4 linked regions of the Homo sapiens genome follow. The protein of the gene in region 4 purifies or fractionates together with the protein of the main gene of each other region. This does not show direct contact. Each region holds a gene or a part of one and is shown on either strand. Other genes may lie near its edges. The genes, in order: KRR1, CHERP, FARS2 and ZNF346.

The links.
Region 1: the proteins of ZNF346 (region 4) and KRR1 purify together in Homo sapiens (affinity purification with mass spectrometry; 3 studies listed by BioGRID and IntAct, with this or other methods). This does not show direct contact.
Region 2: the proteins of ZNF346 (region 4) and CHERP purify together in Homo sapiens (co-immunoprecipitation; 2 studies listed by BioGRID and IntAct, with this or other methods). This does not show direct contact.
Region 3: the proteins of ZNF346 (region 4) and FARS2 purify together in Homo sapiens (co-immunoprecipitation; 2 studies listed by BioGRID and IntAct, with this or other methods). This does not show direct contact.

Annotation. Positions count from the first base shown.
Region 1 is NC_000012.12:75,490,351-75,494,629, forward strand, and holds the end of KRR1 (KRR1 small subunit processome component homolog), read right to left. Parts: 3' UTR 513-4,279; downstream 1-512. Other genes in the region: GLIPR1 (glioma pathogenesis-related protein 1 precursor), read left to right, coding at 56-168. UniProt on the Homo sapiens protein: Part of the small subunit (SSU) processome, first precursor of the small eukaryotic ribosomal subunit.
Region 2 is NC_000019.10:16,525,406-16,532,437, forward strand, and holds part of CHERP (calcium homeostasis endoplasmic reticulum protein), read right to left. Parts: intron 5,476-7,032; coding exon 5,364-5,475; intron 5,270-5,363; coding exon 5,180-5,269; intron 4,496-5,179; coding exon 4,243-4,495; intron 2,851-4,242; coding exon 2,675-2,850; intron 273-2,674; coding exon 1-272. UniProt on the Homo sapiens protein: Involved in calcium homeostasis, growth and proliferation.
Region 3 is NC_000006.12:5,362,510-5,369,541, reverse strand, and holds part of FARS2 (phenylalanine--tRNA ligase, mitochondrial), read right to left. Parts: intron 993-7,032; 5' UTR 972-992; coding exon 360-971; intron 1-359. UniProt on the Homo sapiens protein: Is responsible for the charging of tRNA(Phe) with phenylalanine in mitochondrial translation.
Region 4 is NC_000005.10:177,018,053-177,025,695, forward strand, and holds the start of ZNF346 (zinc finger protein 346), read left to right. Parts: upstream 1-4,643; 5' UTR 4,644-4,686; coding exon 4,687-4,861; intron 4,862-5,107; coding exon of another isoform or gene 5,108-5,182; intron 5,183-5,654; exon of another isoform or gene 5,655-5,667; coding exon of another isoform or gene 5,668-5,722; intron 5,723-7,643.

The sequences.
Region 1 (4,279 bases), on a different chromosome or scaffold from region 4:
TACCCAATGTTTATCTTATGGTTTTTCTCTGTTAAAAATCCTTATTTCCTTTCAGGTTGTTTGGGCAGATAGTTACAAAGTTGGCTGCGCAGTTCAATTTTGCCCTAAAGTTTCTGGCTTTGACGCTCTTTCCAATGGAGCACATTTTATATGCAACTACGGACCAGGGTAAGTGCCTGAATCAACCGGTTTATAGGAAACGCCCCCCCCCCCCCGCAAAAAAAAACAACAACAAAAAAAAACATTTTAGCAGTATTCCTCTTCATTATAGAAAATCTGGATAAAGTATAAATAAAAAATTAACATAACCTTTAATTCTTCTGCCCAGAGATATACTTAATTAACATTCTGGTACATTTTTCTTGGAGAGAGAGAGGGTGTGTGTGTGTGTGTACATCCTTTATATATACTACCTAAATACATACGCACATATTTTTAAGAGTGGTAAGACTAAAATATTCATCAGGGACATAAATTGTATATGGTAATACCACAAAGTGGAAGAACTGATGTTATATTTATTGGTTTATTAGAAACTTGGCAATTTTACACAATTTTCAAAGCAAAACAGATTCCTCAACTTATATAACCTATTTCATTTACTTTTGACAGTTGTTTTTAAAACAGATATAGTTCCCACTTTGGGAAACAGGGCAAACACCTTCCTCCTACTTTCTTTAAACTTACATATGTGTGCTTGTGTCATACACATATTTAGAAATCTGATCATACTGAAAATATACATTTTCTATTTTTCACTTAAAATTATGCTGTGAAAAATTTTCCTTTTCAAAATTTTAAGTGATTTTAATCATAAAAATGATAGATTGTTTATATAATGCTTACAATGCTCTCAGCACTGTTAAAGTGCTTCACATATATTAACTTAATCTTCACCAGAAGTTTATGAGATGGCTCCTATTACTACCCCTGTTTGGCAAATGAGAACAGCAAGGCACACACGGGTCAGCAACCTGCCCAAAGTTCTACAGTTAGTGACTATCACTGATGGACTTTGATCTGGCTGTCTAGCTCCAGAGTCCATGCTCTTGATGGTACCACCATCCTGTTGAAGAATTTAGATTGTTCACTATATTTTCATTTAATATATGATGAACAACCTCATATATGTATCTTCAGTCACTTCTATTTCCCTATAATTCCTTGAGATACTAGCACGTAAAGACTGTGACCATTTTTGTTTTAAGTACATATTGCCAAATTACATTCCACCATTATATCAATTTGTATTTCACCATCAGTACTAGGTATTATAATTTCTTAGTATTTTCTAATTTGATGGAAATGGCATTTCATTTGCTTTCTTTTGCATCTCTGTGATTACTAGTAATTATAAATTTCTTCACATAATTGTCTATTTATATTCCTTTTTCTGTGAATCATGTGGGCTGACCATTTTTCTACTAGATTTTCTTATTTATAAAAGTTTTTATATTTTAAAGGTTTTTAACCATTTGCAATATATATAATGATCTTTAATTTGTTGCCTTTGAATTTTTGGATTCCTGGAGATTGGCTGAAAGAAAGCCATTTCCCTGGTGTAATGTGCAGAAGACATGCTCGATACTCTGACTGAGTGCTGTAGGTGTGAAGGAGGAGACAAAGCGTCATTCTGAAGATGACAGCTTTGACTTAATATCTTAAGAGTTGGAAAATAAAGAAAACCCAGAAAAAACTAGACAAAGCCATAATTCAGTTAGTGGTAACTTTTCATGACTTTTTTTTTTTTTTTTGAGACAGGGTCTCTCACTCTGTCACCCAGGCTGGAGTACAGTGGCTCGCTTACGGTTCACTGCAGGCTTAACCTCCCAGGCTCAAGCAATCCTCCCAACTCAGCCTTCCTAGTACCTGAGACTACAGGCACATGCCACCATGCCCAGTTAATTTTTTTGTAGAGACAGAGTTTTGCCATATTGCCCAGGCTCATCTCCAACTCCTGGGCTAAAGTGATCCACCTGCCTCAGCCTCCCAGAGTGCTGGGATTATAGGCATGAGCCACTACACCCGGCCTCATATGACATTTTTAATGGTTAAGATACAATTAATTTACTGTGTGACCCTGGACAAGTTAACTCTGAATCTCAGTTTAACCTCCAATAGATCAGGGTTACAGGACCCATCACTTAGAGTAGCTATGAAAGTGACAAGAGAAGGCTTTGTAAAATACTAGGTATATATAATGCTTGGCAATAGTGAATGTTTTGTAAGTATTCATGATTTTTATTCATTAAAGTATAAATGTAAATTTTCCTGGTTTAGACTCACTTATCTTCAGAGTTATAAACAATATTAAATTATAAAACTTACAACCAAAGTTATAATGCTTCCATAAAGACTAACTTCAAATATTCATTTATTCAACAAATATTTGTTTTACTGAGCTCCAAAGGAGAACAGGGCAGTCTCTGTCTTTATGAGAGTAATATTTATGGGGCAAACAGATAATAAAAATACAAGTAAAATAACTGCATCATTATGGGGCAATTAAGGAACTATAAATAATACTGTAATAGAAACTATCAATAGGCAAGGCCCCTGTTTAGAATAATCAGGGAAGGGCTTCTTGTGTTATATTTAAGCTTAGGCATGAAGAATGAGAAGGAATCAGACATAAGAACTTCTGGAACAGCTGTCTAGTGGAGAAAAGAACAGCAAAACTTCCGTGAAGAAAAGTTTGGCAAGTTTAAACCACAGAGACTGGTGCCCTCGGTCTGCTAAACAGATGAAACGGGGGGAGGAAGGCAGTTGCAGATCTAGCGGGAACTTTTAGATCATGACAAAGTTTACATAAGAAGTCATTCAAGTATATTAAGCAGGGGAGCGATGAGACCTTTAAATTTGGACATCAGTCTGGATGGAAAATGGATTAGAGGAGCATAAAAGGTAAAACAGAGAGACCAGTTAGGAATGTCCTCATTTCCCTTTGCCCTCTGCCCTCTGAGGTATTATTTTCCTATACACAAAAAGTTGTAGGCCCCCATTCCACATAATCTTAGGAAGTCCAGTATCCTCCTCAATATTTCTGATACCTCAGAATGGGGTCTGGGATGCTTAATCTTCCAGTTGCCTGTAATACTCTCCTCTTCATTTCCCCTGGGCACCATGAACAAGGGTATGGTGTGTAACAGATCTTTACTCAGAGTGGATTAGTGGAGGAGAGGATTATAGCACAGAAGAGGAAATAACTTTGACCACAAGATAGTCAAGATAGTACCAGTGTGCTTAGGCCGTCACTGCCTTAGGGACCCTTACCCATATTTATCTTTTTCTTTAAAGATTTGTCTTCGGTCTTCCCCTGGGTCCCATAACCCCAACCCTCTTCTCTCTCAGGCTACCAGGGAAAACATTGAAATGTCCTGTTGCTTTATTGTGCTGAATACTTTAGGTCCCACAGTCTTAATGACTCCCATCTAGACAAATCCAGGCCTTTCCAGTAGCATGTTTCTCCCAAGATGAATACTACCATTTCCACAGACCTCACCGACTGTCTTGGTTTTTAGCTTATTTTTAAGTAGCATTTTTTACCTTTTCCTTTACAGTTTGGAATGCACAACTAAGTATCATAAATGACTTTATTAAAATCATTCTAGAACTTAAACCACTTAATACTGTGCTTATTAACAATGAAAGACATTCCAATGATTAATGTCTATTTTGGACATCTTTTGAAATTGCTATCAGAATTTCTACTATATTACCTTTTTTCCATGGTGTAGAGTAAGCAGAGGGCTAATTAAATTTCTGAAGCAACTTAAAATTTGGAGCAAAATGAGATAAGAACATAGATTTGGGGTTGGAAATAAGGTATCGTTATAAAGTTGTGTGTCTAAGGTGAGAGTTCTCAACTTTGGAGGTAATTGTAGAGTGCTGGGGAGAGGAGGACCATAAACTTTGATTAGAAAATAGTTTTATTTTTATTTTCACTAACCTCTATTAAAAATAACATTTCCTTTCATTATGAATGAAGACAACACTCCACCATCATATTAGCAATAAACGTGACTCTGACTTAGCAGTATCATCTTTGTAAATATCAGATATTTTCATACCACATTCCACTTGCTGCAGAGAACTCAAAATATAGTTTGTGTTCATCACTGCATTGAAACTAATAGCCCCCGGTAGATCTTAATAGAGAAGCACATATTACTTTATCACAAATCTTGTTTTAAACATTTTGATAACTATTTCAATTTAATTGGTTTCCTTTATAATCCTATGTATTTTATGCATTTAACAACAAACTATGTTGAGAAAG
Region 2 (7,032 bases), on a different chromosome or scaffold from region 4:
AAGGGCCCCCGGAAGTGTGGGGGCCGCTGCATGCGGAAGGGTGGCTCGCGCTGGCCCCCGCCCCAGGGCGGCTGCTCGTGCTGGCTGTTCCAGGGGCCCTCGAACTGGCTGTTCCAGGCGGCGTCGGGCTGGTTGTTCCAGGGCGCGTCGCGCTGGCCGTTCCAGCCGGGGTCACCGCGCTGCTCGCCCCACATGCCCTCATGGCTGTTGTTCCAGGGGGGGCAGTGGGGTGGGCCGCCCTGGTGGTGCGGGTAGGGTGGCTGCTCTGGCGGCTGCAAGGGAAGGGACAGGCTTGAGCCCTGCGTGGTCTAGGCCCTAGTGCTCGGCAGCATCACAGCGCTCGGCAGCATCACAGCGCTGGCTCAGACCATGGAGGCGCTGCCCTGGCCACGTTGAGGCGCCTCCTACGCTGACGCCTGCGAGGATGCTGGGCACCTGCTCTCAGCCCGCACCACATGCTGCTGCAAAATGACCAGACACCCAACCGCTGCACCCGCATCTCAGTCCCGGGGCTGTTTCTGCCGCTGGGGCGCGCTGCACCCGCACACAGGCCGCCCGCGCCACAAGGTGCTCCCCGCTACCACTGCCAGACAAACGCCAGCTCCCTCGCCCCTCAGGGGCAGGTGCAGAGGCACAGACGGTATCGCTTCTCAGGGCACCCCAGGCACCCATGGGGCGGGGCTCACTCTGACACCCCCTGCCCTGCCTCACTCCCCCTCTCCCCAAAAGCCGTCTGCTGGGCAGATACACTGCGGCACACACATCCTTGTCCTGGGGTCTGCTTCTGGGGACTTTCAAACCAAGCCAGCATCTTCCTGTAGACTGAAGACGGGAGGCTCTTCCCTCATCAGCTTCTGCTCTGGAGACTTAAAGCCAGGAGGGCAAACTCCAGCTTGGGCAGGGGAGGGGAGGAGCACAGAGGCCAATGAGAAGGCCGGTGTCTAGGGTCACAGCTGGGTAACTGCGCTGACCCCTACTAAGGGGAGGCTGGCCCAGGCTGCCACATTCACCAGGCTTCCAAGAGAAGCCAGAGAGCCAGATATTAAATATCAGGAACTACTTGTTTTTCTTTTTCTTAATTTGAGACAGTCTCGCTCTGTTGCCCAGGCTGGAGTGCAGTGGCGCGATCTTGGCTCACTGCAACTTCCACCTCCCGGGTTCAGGTGATTCTCCTGCCTCAGCTTCTCGAGTAGCTGGGATTATAGGCGCCTGGCACCATGCCCGGCTATTTTTTTATCTTTAGTAGAGGCGAGGTTTCACCACGTTGGCCAGGCTGGTCTCAAACTCCTGACCTCAAATGATCTGCCCACCTCAGCCTCCCAAAGTGTGGGATTACAGGCGTTAGCCACCACGCCCAGCCTTGCTTTTCTTTTTTAGAGACAAGGTCTCACTCTGTCACCCAGGCTGGAATGCAGTGGCATGACCATAGCTCAATGAAGCCTGAAGTCCTGGCTGAACCAATCTTCCTGCCTCAGACCACTGTGTAGCTGGGACGACAGGTGTGCACCACCATGCCAGCTTATTTTTATTCTTTGTAGAGATGGAGTCTTGCCTTGTTGCCCAGGCTGGTCCCAAACTCCTGGCCTCAAGCAATCTTCCTGCCTTGAGAAATTACTTTTAAACGTGTTAAGACCCCACATGGCCAAGTCAAGCAGGCCAGGCTGCTGTTTCTCAGTGTGGACTGCAGGATGCACTGCTGGCCTAGCGGGCACCCTCAGTGAGGGGCGTGCCCATTGTCCTGAGCCCAACCCTCTGGTCTGCAAAAAGACTGAGCCTGGAGACACTAAGGGCCTGTTTCCACACCTACAAAACAGGGACAAGAACTGCCCCCCCCAGCAGAGGGTACCTGCAAAACAGCCACCACCATCTGGCTCCTGGCCAGCACTTGGAGGTGGGAGCTGTCTTTATGGGGGTGTCCAATCTTTTGTGAGGTTCAATTTCGTGTCCTGAAGCTGGGGATGGGAGGCTCAAAGCCACAACCACCAAGTCTCAGTCCAGAGCCAGTCTCCTTGCCATCCTTACACCTGTCCCTGCAGACAGGGAGTCACCTGGAAAGGCCACGCTGCGAAGCCAACCAGGCCCCACGGGCAAGGGGGAAAGTCACGCCCTGGAAGACCCGGGGCTGTGCCTCAGTGCTGAAAGTGGACCCAGCACGCTGCAGGGCATTTCACAGCCATGCTGTGCCACATAAGGTGGCCCCTGCCTTGGCCCAGGGGTATGTGACCCATAGCAAAGCTGCATCTGAGGCCTCCCAGGGGCAACACGGCTGACATTTCTGACATTCCCCCTTTCCTTACAAAAGCACCTTGTTCTTTCCAGGATGACAAAACACTGACACTCAACTAGCTTAACCTGTTTAAGGAGGACAGGAAACAGAACACCCTGCCGTGCCTTGCAGCGTTAAACTCCCCTGCACTCGCAGGACAATGGTGATCTATACTACAGAGAAGCCCAAACCATCAAAGCTCGGGGAAGGGACGTGAAGACCTGTCACTTGACCTGTCCCGGAGCCACAGGAAGACAGGGCTGTCACTAACCCAGCATAAGCTCTGCCACAGAATATCCCTCATTGTTCCCCAGTAAGCCACTCAACGCCCACCAACTGGCATAGGGGAGGCTACCCCATCAGGCCAAGTGTGCCCCATCTGCTCCCACCCCAGGTTCCAATCAATACCTGCTGCTGGCCCCAAGGAGCCACGGGGTGAGGCTGGTCAAACCAAGGGGGCTTGTTTGGTGGGATCTGGTCGTGTGGCCCGGGGCCCCGGGGGCCGGCAGCTGCAGGATCCTGGACCCCTCCTGGAGCTTCGTACTCTGAAGAGCCAGGCATCTGGATGGGAGGCTTGCTGTCATCTAAATCCAAGTGACAGGCAGTTAGAGCAGGCCTGGCAGCAGGAGGCGCTGTCTCCTCTCCACACTACCCCAGAGCAAACCAGGCTACCGCTTTTAGTGCCCAGTGGATGATCGCTTCAGGACCCACTAAAACCATGACTATCACTGGCTTCCAGGAAGGGGACAGGGCGAGGGGAGGTTTCGACCTTGAACATGACACACATCTGTCCTTTTCAAAGCTTTACAAGAAACAGGCCTCACTTCTGCCTTCTTGGTTTGCTGAAGAATTTCTATCCACACTGAATTTGATTAGACATCTTTACTGTATCTAATTAAAAGGTCATTTCCCCACATCTGTTATTTTCTATTCTATACAATCCTCATATTCCTACAACAAATCTTCTTTGATCAGAATGTAATTTTAAAATCCTTTGCTAGGCCGGGTGCGGTGGCTCACGCCTGTAATCCCAGCACTTTGGGAGGCTGAGGTGGGTGGATCCCAAGGTCAGGAGATCGAGACCATCCTGGCTAACACGGTGAAACCCCGTCTCTACTAAAAATACAAAAAAGTAGCTGGGCATGGTTGCGTGCGCCTGTAGTCCTAGCTACTCAGGAGGCTGAGGTAGGAGAATGGCGTGAACCCAGGAAGCGGAGCTTGCAGTGAGCTGAGATCACGCCACTGCACTCCAGCCTGGGCGACAGAGCAAGACTCCATCTCAAAAAAAAATCAAAAACAAAATCCTTTGCTAGATTCTGCTAAGATTTCCTTCAGTATTTCCGTGTCTTTTTCAGAAGTGACACTAGATTGTATTTTCTGAGACAGGGTCTCGCTTTGTTACCCAGGCTGGAGTGCAGTGGTGTAAATGCAGCTCACTGCAGCCTCAATCTCATGGGCTCAAGTGATCCTCCCACCTCAGCCCCCAAGTAGCTGGGACGACAGGTGAGCACCATTTTTCTATTTTTAGTAGAGACGGGGTTTCACCATGTTGCCCAGGCTAATCTCAAACTCCTGGGCTCAAGCGATCTGCCCATCTTGGCCTCCCAAAGTGCTGGGATTACAAGCGTAAGCCACCATGCCTAGCCAATTATATTTTCAGTCTGTGCATTGTCCTTCCTGCCTGATGTAATAGTTACCCTAGTCTTGGGGAATGATCTGGGTACCTTTCCTCTATTTCTTTTCTCTGGGAACAGGAAACAGATCTTCTGCTGTTCAGGAATGGGATGGTTGTAGTTTTACTCTAGGATCACCTGGCTCGTGCTTGTAAATGGATGAAAACCTGGGCCTAGGAGCAGGCCTGGGACGAGGGAACAAGAACTGAGTCTGAGGGTGGCAGACTGCTTTCTGACTACACTCGGTGCCCAGCCTCTGGGGGCTGTTTCCTGGGGGCAGGCTGAGCTGAGGGAGCCCCGTACCAGGCTGGGTGGTGGGCGGGATGGCAGGGGCAGGTGCTGGGGCCGGGGGTGGAGCAGGCGGTGGAGGCGTGGCCTTGACTTCAGCCTCCATCTGCGGCATCTGGAGCTGCTGCTGCTGCTGTTGCTGCTGCTGCTGCTGCTGGGCCAGGCTGGTGACAAACTCCTCGTGCTGCGTCTTGAGGGTCTGGATCTGCTGCTGGAAGGCCAGCTGCACCGGCTGGACCACTGAGGAGTACTCGTTGATGAGGGTGGCCTGAGAGAGAGAAGAGCACCCGCTGCTCAGTATGCGGCCTTGGGGCTCGCTGCCTGGCGCCAGAGGACAAACGCCTGGAAAGCAGCAGAGCCTGGGGGACCTGGGGCAGGTGGACAGGGAACCGTCACGTGAAACAGCCAACACAGTCTGGGCAATCAGTGTGCGCTGGGATCTGGCCAGAGATTTGGGGATGAGGATGTTCGCTGCAGCGTGTTTTACGACTCCCTGATAACAGAACGAGCAACGACAGCCGTGTCCTGGCCGCTTCGTGGCTGCTCAGCGAACACTGCCCACCAACATTCTGGGACACGCTCATGGGCTCTGCCTCCCACTCGCCATGTGGCTCTCAGCAAGAGGGGCTGCCACAGCCTAAGCCACGTCTGGGCTTCCTCATGCTTCCACCACACCGGAACATGCCTGACCACCAGAGCAAATGGGCCATGTGCAATGACTCCGAAAGGCCGCCTGGTTCTAGTGTTCCAGGAAAGTCAGGGAGACACACCTAAGGCCTGGGAAATGTCACCTGGGACTCTCTGGTCAACACACACTGGCTACTCCTAGCACAGGCAGGGGACATGGGCTCTCTGGCTGCTGGGGTGGCAGCTGCTGTCCCCACACTCCCAAACCCTCCTGGGGAACCCGCCCCAGCTCTAGGGTGAGGTGTGGGTGGGCAGGGACACTCACCTGGTACTGACCAAGCCCCAGGGCTGGGCTCTGTAGCTGCTGAATGATGGAGTCATCGAAGTAGCCGTTTTTCTCCCAGAGCTGCAGGAGCTGGCGGTGGGAGGAGAGAGAGGCCGGGTCAGTGGGGAGGGGAAAGGCCTGTGTGTCCCGGTCTTGCCCAACCCCCGGCCCGGGGCCCACGCACCCGGGCGATCTTCTGCTGCTTGTCTTCCTCCACGGCCAAGAAGCTGGTGCAGTAGATGGGCACCACGACCTTCTGCAGGGCGGCCAGCAGCTCCCGGGCCTGCTTGCGCTGGCTGTGAGGGAGAGACTTTCCGCGCGTCAGGGCCCTGGGGCGGGACCCGGCCACGCGCCCGTTACCATCGCGGCTCCAGCCTCAGCGCCCTCTGCCTTCTCGGGAATCGGGTCCCCAACCCGGTCAGGGCGATGGCTGGGCTCCCACGAGACCTGTGCTGGTGCCTGGGCTCGAGGAAGGGACAGATGGAAAAACAGCAAGCAGGGGAGGGAGAGAACGTGGCCTGGGGCCGTTCTGAGCAAGGCCTTTTGGTCCAGTCCCCTTGATAGGAAATAACCTTCCCTCCTTCCCTCTTGGGTGGCGCTGCGGGTGAAGGGATATGGGCCGGCGGGAGCCCCTGCCTGTGTATGATGGGCGGGATGGGACTGCTGCGGAGTGGGGGTCTTGTCCTTGTCACTCACTATGCACAAGGAAACCTCGGCCCAGGCCAGGCCTCTTGGGAGAAGGAGGGAGGGTGCCCAGTCCCTCAGGAACCTAGAACACTTTAGAAGAGTGACCGGATGCCCAGCGGGGGGAGGCGCCGGGCCCATGTCCTCTCAGGGCTGCTGTGCAGTGCTGCACAGGACACTGTGCATACCTGGCCTGGGAGGCCCCTGCCGCTGCGCAGGGAGATGGCTGCCCCTGGGGAGGGACGCAAGACAGGAGGGGAGCAGCTGGAAGCCCCTCAGCCCTCAGCTTGCCGCAGGGGGCTCAGGGGAGCAAGGGCCTGGGCTGGGCGAGCAGCACTTGGCTTCGGACAGAGTAGAGCTAGAGAGGCGCGTGGCTGGAGAATGCGGGAAACTGTGCATCCGTGCAAGGCACCCGACTCAGAGGCAGGGAGAAATGGAGGCATGAGGAGGAGCAGAAGGGCAGAGCTGGTGCCGAGCCGCAACTCACTTCCCAGCAGGAGAGAAACAGGGACTGAGGTGGGGAGGCAAGAGGGACTCAGGCAGTGCTGCATGTGATAGATGGGGCGAGATGGGTGCTGGCAGCCTGGCCCACTGTAGAGGCACACGAGGCGCCAGGCCAGGACTGCTGCCCGCTAGGCTCAGTAGCAATGCTTGTCTCCTCCCGCACGTGCGGGCCTTTGGCCTGGGGTTCTATTGTTTTTTTTTTCTTTTTTGCTAATTTTTGTGAGAAGGGCCCCAGTGACCCTGTAGAAGGAAATACCCACCCAACCTTGGGGAGGGTGGAGACAGCAACAGTGGGAAGGGTGAGGGCTGGGTGGGGACAGAGGGTCGGCAGATGTGGCTCTGTTGAAGCCTGAGAGATGGGTCAGGGCTGGAGAAGGGGATCCCAAAGGAGGGTCCTGATGGCTGAGCAAAGTCAGGTGACCGCGTGTGTGTGCGTGCAAATCAGTGACGAGGGCAGGAGACAGACACAGAGGCCAAGGAGGCCGTGGCTGAGAAGGCAACAAGGAGACGCCAAGAAGCTGCCCCATGAGAGGAAGGAGTGCAGGGGACAGTGGCCCCCAGGAGACAGCAATGTGACAGGTGAGGCCGGGGTCTAGGGGAGAGGACAGGGCATGCAGCGAAGGTGCACAGGACACCTAGACCTCGCAGTCCTGGAGACAGAAGCC
Region 3 (7,032 bases), on a different chromosome or scaffold from region 4:
ACCACAGGTTTCCATGTTGCACCTTCAGCCATCCTGGATTAAAGGTGAATTTGAGCCACAGACTATTCTCCATTCATAAGAAGTAACCCAGAGAATGGCGGGTCAGTATTGAGAGAAAGGATAAGGACAGACAACTGGAAACTAAGGCTTACCAATTTCTGTAGTTACTAACACAACAAAGCGGTCAAAAAGTACTGGGGCACACCTATACACAAGATGTCATTAAGTATGGATGATTCACTAAGGCAAAATAAGGCAAGCAAGGATGACTATGCTGGTCTCATCGAGCTAAATGTTAGTGACCTCAACATAAAATGTCTATGACATCCTTCAGCGATGAGAAACATCTCAAGACTCACCTCATGCTTGGAGAAGAGCCGCACGGCCTCCAGCTGGTGGAAAATAGGGTAGTGCTGGGAGTCGATCTGGTCACGCCTGTAGACATCACCCACCACCAGGAAGGCATCCAGTCCCGCGTGCAGCAAGTCCCACTGGTGTGCAGACGTGTGCGCTCTCAGCATGTGAGTCCGATTCAGGTAATAGTTGTCCCCCTTCTTCCTGCTGGGGTGATCAGCTGGGATGAGCAGGCTGTCAAAGTTCTGCCAGGTCGTGACCACTGGAGAAAGGTTGTCGTAGACCGAGAACAACGGGGTCCCAAAGCGGCCCACATACTGCTTGTAGAAGTGCTCCTTCACCCTCTCCTTGATCAGCCACAGAGGGTGATGCTGCTGGTTGTGCAGGTTCCTGCCAACTCTGGTGAGGACCTTCCGGGTGAGGTTGCTGTGGTCGTCCTGAGGGTAGGATTTGCCCAGCAGCTCCACCACACTGCCTGGAGCTCTTTGGGTGGCACACTCTGCTGCAGGAGGCCTCGATCCCCAGGCCTGGTGCTGATGGCCTCTGGAGATGTGACTGGCCTTACTCACCAGGTAGACATATGCATGGGCACCTCTCCTGAGAGCTGAGCCCACCATTGTAGAAACTTCTCACAGGTTCTGGAAAGAGCACACAGGCAAAGCACAAGTCAGGTGTCACTCTGTGGAAAGCAAGTGTGTTCTTTGCATCTCCCACCAGCTCCCTCTTGTCCTACTGGCATGTTTCCCCCACTACGACCTCCACACAGCTGAAAGAGCCAATTAAAGAAATCTGACAGACATGTGATACTTAATACACTAAATGAAAAGATTCCTGGAAGTCACTTTTATATCCCTAATCTCTAGTTGTCCTTCCTTTGTCATTCAGATCCTTGGCTTTGTAGAAAACCTCGTTTATTATGTTATCATGTCCTGAACTCGTGATGTGGAAAAAAACTGTAAACACGACAACCTTTACATTATAGAACCAAAAAACTTCAGAGAGATCCCCTAAAATACAGAACTTAATTGGACCCTATTAAGGGTCCCACTAATAAAGGAAGCAAATGATTAGACAGAGGCTTCCGAAGGAGAGTGGAAGAGAAGAGATTTAAGAGCCATCCTTCACATTTCTGCCGACCATCCTCATAACTACAGAGTTCTCTTTATCTTTGACATAGCATAACTTCTGTATTACTTCACTAGATCACAAAGTGACATTACTAATTTTTTTAAAAAGTTTTAAACAAAATACACCACTTTAGATTGTGGTTAACTTTAATATTTTAAAGATAAAATAGAAAATCTCAGGAAATATTGTACAAAGTGATAGACTATATCAATGGACAGCTGTAAATGCAAATCTTCTCACATCTGGTCATGTCACTTAAACTTAATACCTTTGTGGCATCCTCTCAATTACACCTTTGGCAAAAGGGCAAATTTCTACTACACACCCACAATTAACCAGAAACAGGACTAAACTTGTTGGGGAAGAGTGACAGAGCAGCCAGAAGGCAGAGCACTGACCTAGATTTTTAAGTAAATAAAATGCCAAACTTTACAGCTGAAAGTCACCTCAGCTGTCATCTAGTATAGGCGGTTCAAGTCACGGATGAGGTGAGAAGGACCTAAGTATAACTGGCAAAACTCTAAGGTATTGAAAGAGTTCAATAAGACAACCGCAAAGGGCTGTGAACCACTCACACAGTGTCTTCTTCCCACTGCCACAGAAGCCAGTTTTAAACTCACTCAGGGATCCCAATAAGGAGAGTCTTGAGATGTCACATCCCATTGTTCACAAATAATTTACATTCACAAACTTAAATTATAAAAATCCATCTTCTAAAATGTGGAATTCTTCCCTACCGGGCTATTTTAAAGCATACAACTATGTGGCTGTTTTACTTCAAGGGCCGTGCAATCATACCAAGAAAATATGTAACTTCATGATATGAAGCTGCATTAGCAAAGAATTATATTGTTCCAAGTCACTATCAAAAGCACAGTCTGTCCCTGGACAACACAATCCACCTGACTCCAAATTGGAACTGAGGAAATCTAGCTGCAAGTTGAATGGCTGTGCTTGTGTGTGATTGCTTCTTAGAAGCTGTGCACAGCACCTTTGTCTGAGACTGTCATCATGGGAGACATTTTCAAAGATACCCAGGAACTCTCTGGTTTTATTCACTTATGGCGTTATTTTGTCAGAGTTGTTTCAAAAGGGCTTTTGGCTGAGCTTCAACTGAAATGTCTTCCCATCTAGTGTTCAGTGACTTGTCACTGCAGTGGATATGAATTTTAAACATGCATATGCAGCCTTACACATCTTGGCACAAAATCAAACTGTTAGGTTATTAGCTACCTAGCTCAGCACCCTTGCCAAAACACAAGAAAAGCTTTCTTCCTCCCAAAGGCATATGTGTTAGACAAAGTTCAGAATTGTTCTCGGAAAGGTGCTTCTGATCCAGTTATTTGTGGGCTGCTGTCGATGCTTTTCCTTCCCAGTTTCCAGCTCTTCACACATCCAAACCCACACTTGGGTTCCATTCCCAGGGATGTGCCCCAGCCTCGTGTCCCTTCCTTGCTCTCCTCACGCAACCCCCAGCTTGCCGATGAAAGTTTGAGGTTCTTGCCCTGGTTTTCAGGCCTTCTATCTATCTGCTCAGCCCTGCTTACATTCTCCACTGTCATTCACCCCACACAGAAAAGTATCTGTCCTTTCTGTTACTATCTCTAACAGAGAGAGATGGATGACTAGGAGAGCCTTCCCACTTCTATCTGAGAAGTGACTTCCTTTCCTTCTACCTCTATCGAATTTCTCTATAAGAAATATATCATCTGGAAATACATAAGAGACCCAGGAGGATAAGACCAACGACATTCATACTTCTATTAATACATTGTTCTTCCATTTCATCCCTTCAACAGTTCTGTGATGTAAGTATTGTTCGTACCACTTTACCAACAAAGAATATAAAGCTCAAAAAGATCACGTAACTAGCATAAATTCATATGCCTAGCTAGCCATGAGACAGTTCAGAATTCTTGGCAATTCAAATATAGCTGACCCTCAAACAACATGGATTGAACTGTGCAGATCCACTTACATGCAGATTCTTTTCAGTAACAGTTACACTGAGTGTGCCTGCCCTTCCTGCCTCCCCTTCCGCCTCCCCTATCTCTTCTACCTCTGCCACCCCTGAGAAGGCAAGACCAACCCCTCCTCTTCCTCTTCAGCCTACTCAACATGAAGATAAGAATAAAGATCTTTAGGATGATCTACTTCCACTTAATAAATAGTAAATACATTTTCTTTCCTCATGATTTTCTTAATAACATTTTCTTTTCTCTAGTTTATTGTAATACAGTATATAATGCCTATAACATACAAAATATGTGTTAATCAATTGTTTATGTTATCAGTAAAGCCTCCAGTTAACAATTAATAGTTAAGTTAGGGGAAGTCAAAAGGTATACAGGAATTTTCAACTGACTGAGGGAGGGTAATCAGTTGTCCAGGGGTCAAGTGCATTTCTCAGTAGGGTGTGGTGGCTCACGCCTATGATCCTAACACTCTGGAAGGCCAAGGCGAAAGGATCACTTGGGCCCAGGAGTTTGAGAGCAGCCTGGGCAACATGACAAGACCCTATCTCTACAAAAAAAAAAAAAAAAAAAAAATTTTATTTAATAAATTAGCCGGGTATGGTGGCACACACCTGCAGTCCCAGCTACTGGGGAGCTAAGGCAGGAGGACTGCATGAACCCAGGAGTTCAGGCTTCAGTAAGCCAGGATTGCACCACTGCACTCCAGCTTGGGTGACAGAGTGAGACTCTGCCTCACTAAAAAAAAAAAAAAAAAAAAAAAAAAAAAGAAAGTATACTTCTCAATCAAAGGTCCAAGATTGTTAAGTTCAAATGGTATCTCTGCAAGGACCTCCCTTAACTTCTATTTTATCTAATTGAGATTATACATCAATGTGTTTTTAAATACATAAATAAATGCATGAATAAGTAAATCCAATAAAACACATTAGCTTAGATAGTAAAAATGAAATAAGTATTTACAGACCCAAGGGCCAAATCTGCCCACAGTAGTCTGTTTGGGGTTTTTTTTTTTGGCTTTGGCTTTTTTTTGTTTCTGAGACAGGGTCTTACTCTGTCACCCAGGCTGGAGTGCAGTGGGATGATCATGGCTTACTGGAGCATCAACCTCCCAGACTCAAGTGATCCTCCTGTCTCAGGCTCCAGTGGCTCCCTGCCCCAGAGATAGCTAGGACTACAGGTGCAAGCCACTATGCCCGGCTAGCTTTTGTATTTTTTGTAGAGATGAGGTTTCGCCACATTGCCCAGGCTGGTCTCAAACTCCTGCCTCAAGTGAGCTGCCCACCTCAGCCTCCCAAAGTGCTGGGATTACAGGCTTAAGCCATCGTGCCTTGCCCATAGTCTGTTTTTACAAATAAAGTTTGTTGGAACACAGCAACAGCCATTTCTTGATTTATCATTTGCCATGGCTTTCTTGCTATCAAGGTAAGATTGAATAGCTGCTATAGAGATTGTGTTGCTCACAAAGCCTAAATACTCACTCTCTGGTCTGTTATAGAGTTTGCTGAGCCCTGTTTTAGCTTAACCTACTGAAAAATTTTTCTACACTATTAATAAAATCTTCCTAGTCACAAATATATGTAGATTATAAAGTCACAAAAAAGGAGCAAGAATACAAATGTGGACGTGAAGTATGTTAGCACTGGTACAAAAGAAACAATCAGACCAACTATAAGAAGAGAAAATACAATATAATGGGCAATAGGCCAGACTTCGCAGAGATACTAATGTTGGTTTGATCCTAGGTTGATCTCTTAGGTGCCATGTATCATCCTTAGAAACGTTATTTGACCCTTCTGGCCTCAAGGTTCTCATCTGTAAAACAGAGAAATATAATACTTATCTCATAATGAAAAGATTATACTAGATCATGTTCATCAGCTAATTAACTCATTGCCCAGTGTGTAACGGGTAAGATGAGCTGAATTCAGGGTTAAAAGTGACCCAGAGATTTCTAGAGATCGGGTAACGGATGAACTAATAAAGTCATTCACTGACACAGAGAACTCAGAATGGATTTTTGTTGTTTGTTCAGATCATCTTTTGTAGAGGGAAACAGATTTGGACAATGGAAGTTCAGTATGAATGAGATAGCCACATTACAATTTCTGTAAGGCAATTCGAGTTATATTATAGTTTGGAAATGAGGTAAGACATTAATCCTGGAAATGTAGACCTTGGAGGTAATTTGCATAGACGTAAGAGTTAATATCACAAGCGTATATAAGAATCCATGGGAGGCTAAGAGCAAGATATAAGTGGGCAAAAGATAGAAGAATACTTGGAACTTATCATATTTAAGGGAAGGGGATGTAAGGAGTAAGACAGAGGGGACGTAAAGGGTGCCACAGCACAGAAGTCAGGGGAAAAGACATCTAGAAGGAAACGGGCCTGTTTCCTGGACCCAAATACCACTCAATGTGCAATGTTTAGCATGCCGTATTATTACTACCTGCTGTTGTCTGTATTCCTACTAGCCTGTGTGGTTCTTGAGAGTAGAACACACAAACACATATATATACACATACTCTTTCTCTCCTCTCTCTCTTATATTTATCATCGTATGCCCATAATCTAGCACTACATGTGATGCTGGGTGGAAGACGCGGGAAGAAGAGAAATAGGAAGAAAAAGAAAAGAATGGAAGGAAATTGGTCAGCAAAAACAAAACAAAGAAGGCTGCCTCTTTGGAAGGGGCAGTAAAGAACTATTTAAAAACTCAATAGAGTGAAGAGACAACTCACAGAATGGGAAAAAGTATTTACAAGCCATGTATCTGGGAAAAAGCTAATGTCCAAAATACATAAGGAACTCACGCAACTCAACAGCAAGAAAGCAAATAACTTAAAAATGGGCAAAGGGGCTGGGCGAGGTGGCTCATGCCTGTAATCCCAGCACTTTGGGAGGCCGAGGTGGGTGGAGCATGAGGGCAGGAGAACGAGACCATCCTGGCTAACACGGTGAAACCCCATCTCTACTAAAAATATAAAAAATTAGCCAAGCATGGTGGCGGGCACCTGTAGTCCCAGCTACTTGGGAGGCTGAGGCAGGAGAATGGTGTGAACCCAGGAGGCAGAGCTTGCAGTGGGCCGAGATCGCGCCACTGCACTCCAGCCTGGGCGACAGAGTGAGACTCCATGTCAAAAAAAAAAAAAAAAAGAAAGAAAGAAAAATGGGCAAAGGATCTGAATAAAGATTTCTGAAAAGAAGACATATAAATGGTCAATAGGTATGTGAAAAAAAATCCTCAAAATCACTAGTCATCAGAGAAATGCAAATCAAAAGCACAATGAGATAGATACACTTTACACCTGTTAGAACCGCTATTACCAAAAAGAAAAGGTAAGTGTTGGTGAGGATGTGGAGAAAAAGGAACCACTGTACACTGTTGGTGGGAATTTAGAGGAGTATAACCATTATGGGAAATAGTATGGAGGTTCAAAAAAATTTAAAAATAGAACTATTAACATATGATCCAGCAATCCCACTTCTGTGTATATAACACAGGAAATGAAATCAGCATGTCAAAGAGACATCTGCACCCCCTTGTTCACTGCAGCATTATTCACAATGGCCA
Region 4 (7,643 bases):
AAAAACTAGAGTTTAAGGCTGGGCGTGGTGGCTCACACTGGTAATCCCAGCACTTTGGGAGGCCAAGGTGGTCAGACCACATGAGATCAGGAGTTCAAGATCAGCCTGGCCAACATGGTAAAATCCTGTCTCTAATAAAAATACAAAAATTAGCTTGGTGTGGTGGTGCACACCTGTAGTCCTAGCTACTTAGGAGGCTGAGGCGGAGAATTGTTTGAACCTGGGAGGCGGAGGTTGCAGTGAGCCGAGATCGCACCACTGCACTCCAGCCTGGGTGACAGAGTGAGACTCTGTCTCAAAAAAAAAAGAAAAGAAAGAAAAACTAGAGTTGAATCTCTTTGAGAGCAAGAACTATATCTTAAGCACTATAGTTTCGTTTGCACATGCACACACATGCACATACAGAGTCAGTATTTAAGCAACTGAAATGTATGCTGAACAGTAGCCAGTTCCCGTCCCTTAGCAAAGTCATTTCCCTGGGATTGTTCATCTCCCATGGCAACAATACACAGTAGGATGTGTTGGAAAATGGTTCTCATTTTCCACAAGGAGGAAATAAAAAGCCAGCCCAACAAATATAAGGCATCACCTGCACTGCCAGGTCCCAGCAAGGAGTCCAGGCCTGGGCCATTCCTGGAAGCACTTACACAAAGACAAAATAGAAAACTGGTGACAATGAAGGCTGTTCAGACCCTCAGCAGGGTAGCTCAGGACTCTGCCTCCATGGCACAGGGGATGAACCCTGACAGCACTCATTGGAGAATAAATGGACATTATTTTGAGCATGTAATTGGATTGGAGGTTGTTTTCCAATAATATGCAAAGCAACTTATATACTCCACTCCCAGTATTTGTTACATAGTATTAAAAATATCCTTGTGGGTTCTGCGACTTCGACAAAAATCCCCTGTATCCCTTGGATTATCCCTGAATAACTTATGCTATATGCAAGTGTAAGTAACTAGAACTCTTAAGATAAATAAGTAGTTTGTGACCATCCTGGCTAACATAGTGAGACCCCGTCTCTAAAAGTAAATAAATAAATAAAAAGAGAATAAATAATGTGCAGTCACTGACTTTTAGGCTGGTCATCTGGTTTTGGCAAAAGGACATAGATTTGCAATCTAAGGACCAGTGTTCAAGCATGGGCTCGTACCTAACTAGCTGTGTGATCTTCACAAAACCTTTACCTTTCCTAGTCTGTTTCTTTATCATCACTTATGAAGAAATCCCTCACAGAAACCACCCTGAGGATTAAATGCTATAATGTAGGTGCTTTGCAAACTGTAAAGCACTGCCCTGGGCTGGGTGTGTGGTTCACACCAGGAATCCCAGCACTTTGGGAGGCTGAGGCAGGAGGATCGCTTGAGCTCAGGAGTTTGAGACCAGCCTGGGCAATATAGGGAAACCCTGTCTCTACAAAAAAAAAATTTTTTTTAATTAGCTGGGCATGTTGGTGTCCACTTGTAGTCCTTGCTACTCAGGAGGCTGAGGCTGGAGGATCACTTGAGTGTGGGAGTTCAAGGTTACAGTGAGCTATGATCATACCACTGCACTAGTGAGACCCTGTCTCGGAAAAAAAAAAAAAAAAATTGTAGGCTGGGTGTGGTAGCTCATGCCTGTAATCCCAGCACTTTAGGAGGCCAAGGCGGGCAGATCACCTGAGGCCAGGAGTTCAAGACCAGCCTGGCCAACAAGATGAAACCCCGTCTCTACTAAAAATAGAAAACATAGCTGGGTATAGTGATGGATGTCTGTAATCCCAGCTACTCGGGAGGCTGAGGCAGGAGAATTGCTTGAACCCAGGAGGTGGAGGTTGCAGTGAACTGAGATGGTGCCACTGCACTCCAGCCTGGGCAACAGAGACTCCGTCTATAAAAAAAAAAAAATTGTAAAACACTGGCCAAACATCAGTCACCTACTGTATTGGAAGCTTGGAAGCTCTAGGGCCTGAGGCCTGACATAGTGCTGGTGCTCAATATTTGTAGTATAAATAAGGAAATACTTGTAGTATAAATGACTAAATTACACCAATGAGCTATATGATCTCAAGCAAGAATAATTCATATCTGTCTCTCTTTGGCCTCCTCTGATATTACTTTCCTCCTTGTTCACTGGGCTCCAGCCATGCTGTCGTTTTTCCTGTTCCTCCAACACATCATGCTCTCTCCTGCCTCAGGGCCTTTGTACCTGCTGTTCTCTCTGCTAGAACACTCTTGCCCAGCTCTTTGCATGGCTACGCCTTCTCATTAATCAGGTCTTAGCTCAAATGTCATTTTCCCAGAGGCTTCTCCTGATGCCACCCTGATTAATGTTCCTAACACATCATTCACCTGAGATGCAATCCTGTTTTATCTTCTCCTTAGCACTTATTATTGTTAACTTTTTTTGTTTTTGAGATGGAGTCTCGCTCTGTTGCCCAGGATGGAGTGCAGTGGCACGATCTCGGCTCACTGCAAGCTCCGCCTGCTGGGTTCACACCATTCTCCTGCCTCAGCCTCCCGAGTAGCTGGGACTACAGGCGCCCGCCACCACGCCCGGCTAATTTTTTTGTATTTTTAGTAGAAACGGAGTTTCACCATGTTAGCCAGGATGGTCTTGATCTTCTGACCTCGTGATCCACCTGCCTCGGCCTCCCAAAGTGCTGGATTACAGGCATGAGCCACTGCGCCAGGCCTACTGTTAACTTTCTTATTGTACTCTCCTCCACTACAATAAAAAATACTTTACTACAGCTTCCCTGTCTTGTTCACCACTATATTTCCATGCTCAAAATATCATCTAGCTCATAGTAAATTCTCCATAAGTATTTGAAAAAATGAGGTTGAAATAAGCTAGTAATATTAAAAGCTTCATTCATTAAACAAATGTTTTGTATATACCTAGGAGGGTCCAGGTTCTATTTCAAAGTGCTGGAGATTCAGGTGCAATGACAAGAGACAAAAGGCTACGCAAGGTGGCATGTGCCTGTAATCTCAGCATTTTGGGAGCCCGAGGCAGGCAGATTATGAGATCAGGAGTTTGAGATCAGCCTAGCTAACATAGTGAAACCCCGTCTCTACCAAAAATATAAAAATTAGCTGGGTGCCGTGGCATGTGCCTGTAATCCCAGCTACTCAGGAGGCTGAGGCTGGAGAATTGCTTGAACCCGGGAGACGGAAGCTGCAGTGAGCCGAGATCGCGTCACTGCACTCCAACCTGGCGACAGAGCAAAACTCTGCCTCAAAAACAATTTAAAAAAAGAAAGAAAAGAAAAGAGACAAAAATCCCTGCCTTCCTGGGGCTTGCCTTCTAGTCGGGAGACAGACAATAAGCAAGATAAAAGGTAAAATATAAAAGAAATAAAGCAGGAAAGAAGGACATGAAGTGTGTGTGGAAAAGTAACATTTTAGATGGGATAGCCAGACAAGGTATTTTAGATAGAGTAGCCAGAGAAGGAAGTGGGAGACTGAGCCATGAAGATATATGAGAGAAATTCACCCCAGGAGGCCTGGATAACTGGGACAGGAATTAAGGAGTTGGGGACTGAGTAACACATCAGGATCAGGGAGGTTAAGGGAAGTCAGATTGTACAGGGCCTTGTTGGTCGAAGTAAGGACTTTGGCTTTTTTTTTTTTTAGTCGGAGTTTCGCTCTTGTTGCCCAGGCTGGGGTGCAATGGCGCCAGCTCGGCTCACAGCAACCTCTGCCTCCCGGGTTCAAGCCATTCTCCTGGCTCAGCCTCCGAGTAGATGGGATTACAGGCATGTGCCACCACACCCGTCTAATTTTGTATTTTTAGTAGAGACGGGGTTTCTCCATGTTGGTCAGGCTGGTCTCGAACTCCGGACCTCAGGTGATCCGCCCCCCCTTAGCCTCCCAAAGTGCTGGGATTACAGGCGTGAGCCACCGCGCCTGGCCGGACTTTGGCTTTTACTAAGAGTGAGATGGGAAGCTGTTGGAGGATTTGAGAACCTAAGCGTCATGATCTGACTTGTCATAAGAGGATTCCTGGAACTGCTGTGCTGGGAATGCCAGTGAGGTTGCTACTACAATAACCTAGGCAAGAGATGGTGGCTCCCAAAGACACGGGAAGGAGCAGCTCTGGGGTTGGAAGATAAAATTTGGGGTCTGACAGCTACATTGGAGAAGCCTATTAGCCATTCGAGTGAACTGTGGAAGAGGCAACTGGATGTATACAGGTCCGGAGTCTCGGGGAAGATCAGAGCTGGGAGCTGGCACTTGGAACTCAACAAATAGTATGTATTATTAGCAGTAATATGGAACCTTAGCTGTACTACTACTTACTAGTAGCGAGCTCTTGAGTTAACCATTTTTAGGTTCTGGGCCTCAGTTTCCCTGTGAATGAAATGGCGAAAACACTCCCACATAACGGGACCTTGAGAACGAAATGAAAAGTATCAAGGGCTGACCGTGAGCAAGGTGAGAGCCATGAGCCAAAACCACACGAGCCTCTCCGGGAGGGGGGGGTCACTGCTGCGGAATCAGCGACAGGTTTCCGAATCCACGGCACACGCTCTGAGGTACCAGAGGTAGCAAAGCAAAATAAGCGCGGGGTCCCGCACGGCAGCGCGGGTGCAGCGCCCAAACCTCGCGAGATTTGTTGGCTGGGCCAAGTACCACCCACCAAATCTCGCGATACCTAGGCGCCTGAGAGGCTCTCTACCGGTGAGGGTTTGCGGGGAAGATGGAGTATCCCGCGCCGGCCACGGTGCAGGCCGCGGACGGCGGAGCGGCCGGGCCTTACAGCAGCTCGGAGTTGCTGGAGGGCCAGGAGCCGGACGGGGTGCGCTTTGACCGCGAGAGGGCGCGCCGCCTGTGGGAAGCCGTGTCCGGTGCCCAGCCGGTGGGTAGAGAGGAAGGTGAGTCGGGGGCTTTGGAGGCAGAAAGCCCCTCGCCCGCTGCGCGGCTCGCGGGGAACTGCGGAAGCGCCGACGGTCACACCCCCTGGCCCGCCTCCTTGCGTGCTGCGCCCCGGGACCCCCAGACTTGTGCTCCCCATCCGGGCGCGGGCACCCCAAGAATCGGGCCCCCAGCGCGCTGAGGGTGAAGGGCCGCTCACGCTCAGGCCCTGGGTTTTCCTCCTCCTCCTTCATCATTCACTACAGCGCAGTTTTTCCCACATTCGAGGACTGTCATCCCTATACTCGTCCTGTCGGAGACCTACAGTCTTTGCCATCCCGGTAAGCCAAGCCGAGTGCCCCTCACCACTCCTTGACTCCCCATCGTCCCAATCTCCAGATTTCCTCCTAGGGCCTCTCGCCTCCCTTCTCTCAAGCCCCACACTTCCGAGGGCTCTGGAAGGCCTTCTCCTTACCCCCTGGGTTCCTCCTGGTCTTGATGACTGAGCCCTGGCTTACCCGTTTTTAGCTCTCTGGCCTCTACTTGCTGGGTCCCTTATTCTAAGGTGGGGACAAGGAGCCTGAGAAACTGGTCTGGGTTTGCTTTGGCTCCAGCTTCTTTGTGTCCTACACTTGACCCAAAGTTGCTGAGAACAGTGTATGCAAAGCCACGTTAGGGGTCACTCCTGGGCCGAAGCGCCCCAGCTTGCTCTGCACTTGACCTGAGACTGGGTAAGATGGGATGAAAGAAAGAGAAGGATGGAAAAGAGCTGTCCTGACCTGCTTGTGTGACTCCCTTCACTGTCCTTTACAGAGCCAGCTGCTTGATGCTAACCCAGATGTACAAGAACTCTATCTGGGCTTCTCTGCTAACCTTGTCAGGTATCTGGAGGGAAATCAGATTTCTCCAGTGATTTGTTTGCTTGCTGAGCAGACTTGTCTTCGAAAGTTTAATATGCTATTTGTGAACTGACTGCCCTGGATAAAATTGGATAAAATTGAAATTTTGACCATATCTAAGGAAGGTACACAGACCTATACCCTGGTATATACTTCTCCAATTTAAAAACAAGTCTAGCCTGTCTCCTAAGTTTATATATATATATAATGTATATTATATATAAAAAAGAAGGAGACAGGGCCCCAGAAATGGTGTGTGTGTATGCGTATATATAATATACACACACATAAATGTATATATATAATATATACACACATAAATCTGTATATATATTTTTATATACACTTGTAAGTATTTTATGTATACACACACACACACACACACACTATTTCTGGGGCCCTCTCTCCTTTTTTTTTTTTTTTTTTTTGAGAGAGTCTCACTCTGTCACCCAGGTTGGAGTGCAGTGGCACAATCACACTGCAACCTCCGCCTCCTGGGTTCAAGCAATTCTATACTGCCTCAGCCTCCGGAGTAGCTGGGATTACAGGCTGCTGCCATGACGCTCAGCTGATTTTTGTATTTTTAGTAGAGATGGGGTTTCACCATGTTGGCCAGGCTGTTCTCGAACTCCTGACCTCAAGTGATCTGCCCGCCTTGACCTCCCAAAGTGCTGGGATTACAGGCATGAGCCACCGCACCCGGCTCTCCTACTTTCACACTTGTTTGGTAGTTTCCTCCCCTACCCCAATTTTCCTTTCATTAACTTGACAAACACTCACTGATGCCTGCTCTGGACCCGGAACTGGTTGAGCTTCAGAGCTGGAGTATCAGAGGAAGATACTGCCCTTGCCCTGGAAAGGCTTGCAGTCTAGTCCAGGAAGCAGACACCAAAACAGTTCCAGTGTAATGTAAAGGATGCAGTGCTGAGGAATGTTTTAAGAGTTGGAGGTGCACAAGAAGAAAGTGACCTTTGCCCTGGATCTTGAAGCAGAAAACCACTGTGCTCTGAAAAGTGAACTGTCTGCTATGTGTATATGAGTGTATAGTGGCACTGTTATGACCCATTTCATTTCCCTGTTCTCACTTCTCCCACATTTATGTGAAATCTAGGTAGACACCTACAACATTAAGTTCTACTCACCCTTTTTCTACTCTTAGCACCTTCATGTGAGTTACAATTTATATACCATACAAGTCACCCATTGTAAGCATATCGCCAGTGATTGTTAGCCAGTGTACAGAGTTGTATAGCCATTACCACAGTCCACTTTTAGAACATTTCCGTCACCCCAATTAGTTCCTTTGAGCTCATTTATATTAAATCCCCACTCCCACCTCCTGCCCTAGGCAACCAGTGACCTGTTTTCTGTCTTGGGTAGTCTTTTGAGTTTGGCTTCTCTCAGCATGTTTTTGAAGTTCAGCCAAGTCATGGTGTGTATTAGTACTTCATTCCTTTTTATTGCTAAATAGAATTCCATTGAATGAATATAACACATTCTATTAATCCATTCATTAGTTCTAGACATTTGGATTGTTTCCAGTTTGGAGTTTTTGTGAATAGTGCTGCTGCGAACATTCATGCCCAAGTTTTTGTGTGAACATACATTTCATTTCTTGAGTATATCCCTAAGAGTGGAATTGCTGGGTCATATCGTAACTCTGACATTTTGGAGAACTGCCAAACTGTTTTCCAAAATGGCTTCACCTTTTATATTTCTGCCATCAGTGTATGAGGGTTTCGCTTTTTCTATAACCTTGACAACACTTGTCTTTTTTGATTATAGGCATTCTAGTGGGCATGTAGTGATATCTCATTGTGGTTTCCTAAAGACTGATAATACTGAGCAACTTTTCAGGGGCTGACTACCCATTTGTAGATCTTTGGTGAAATATCTATTCACA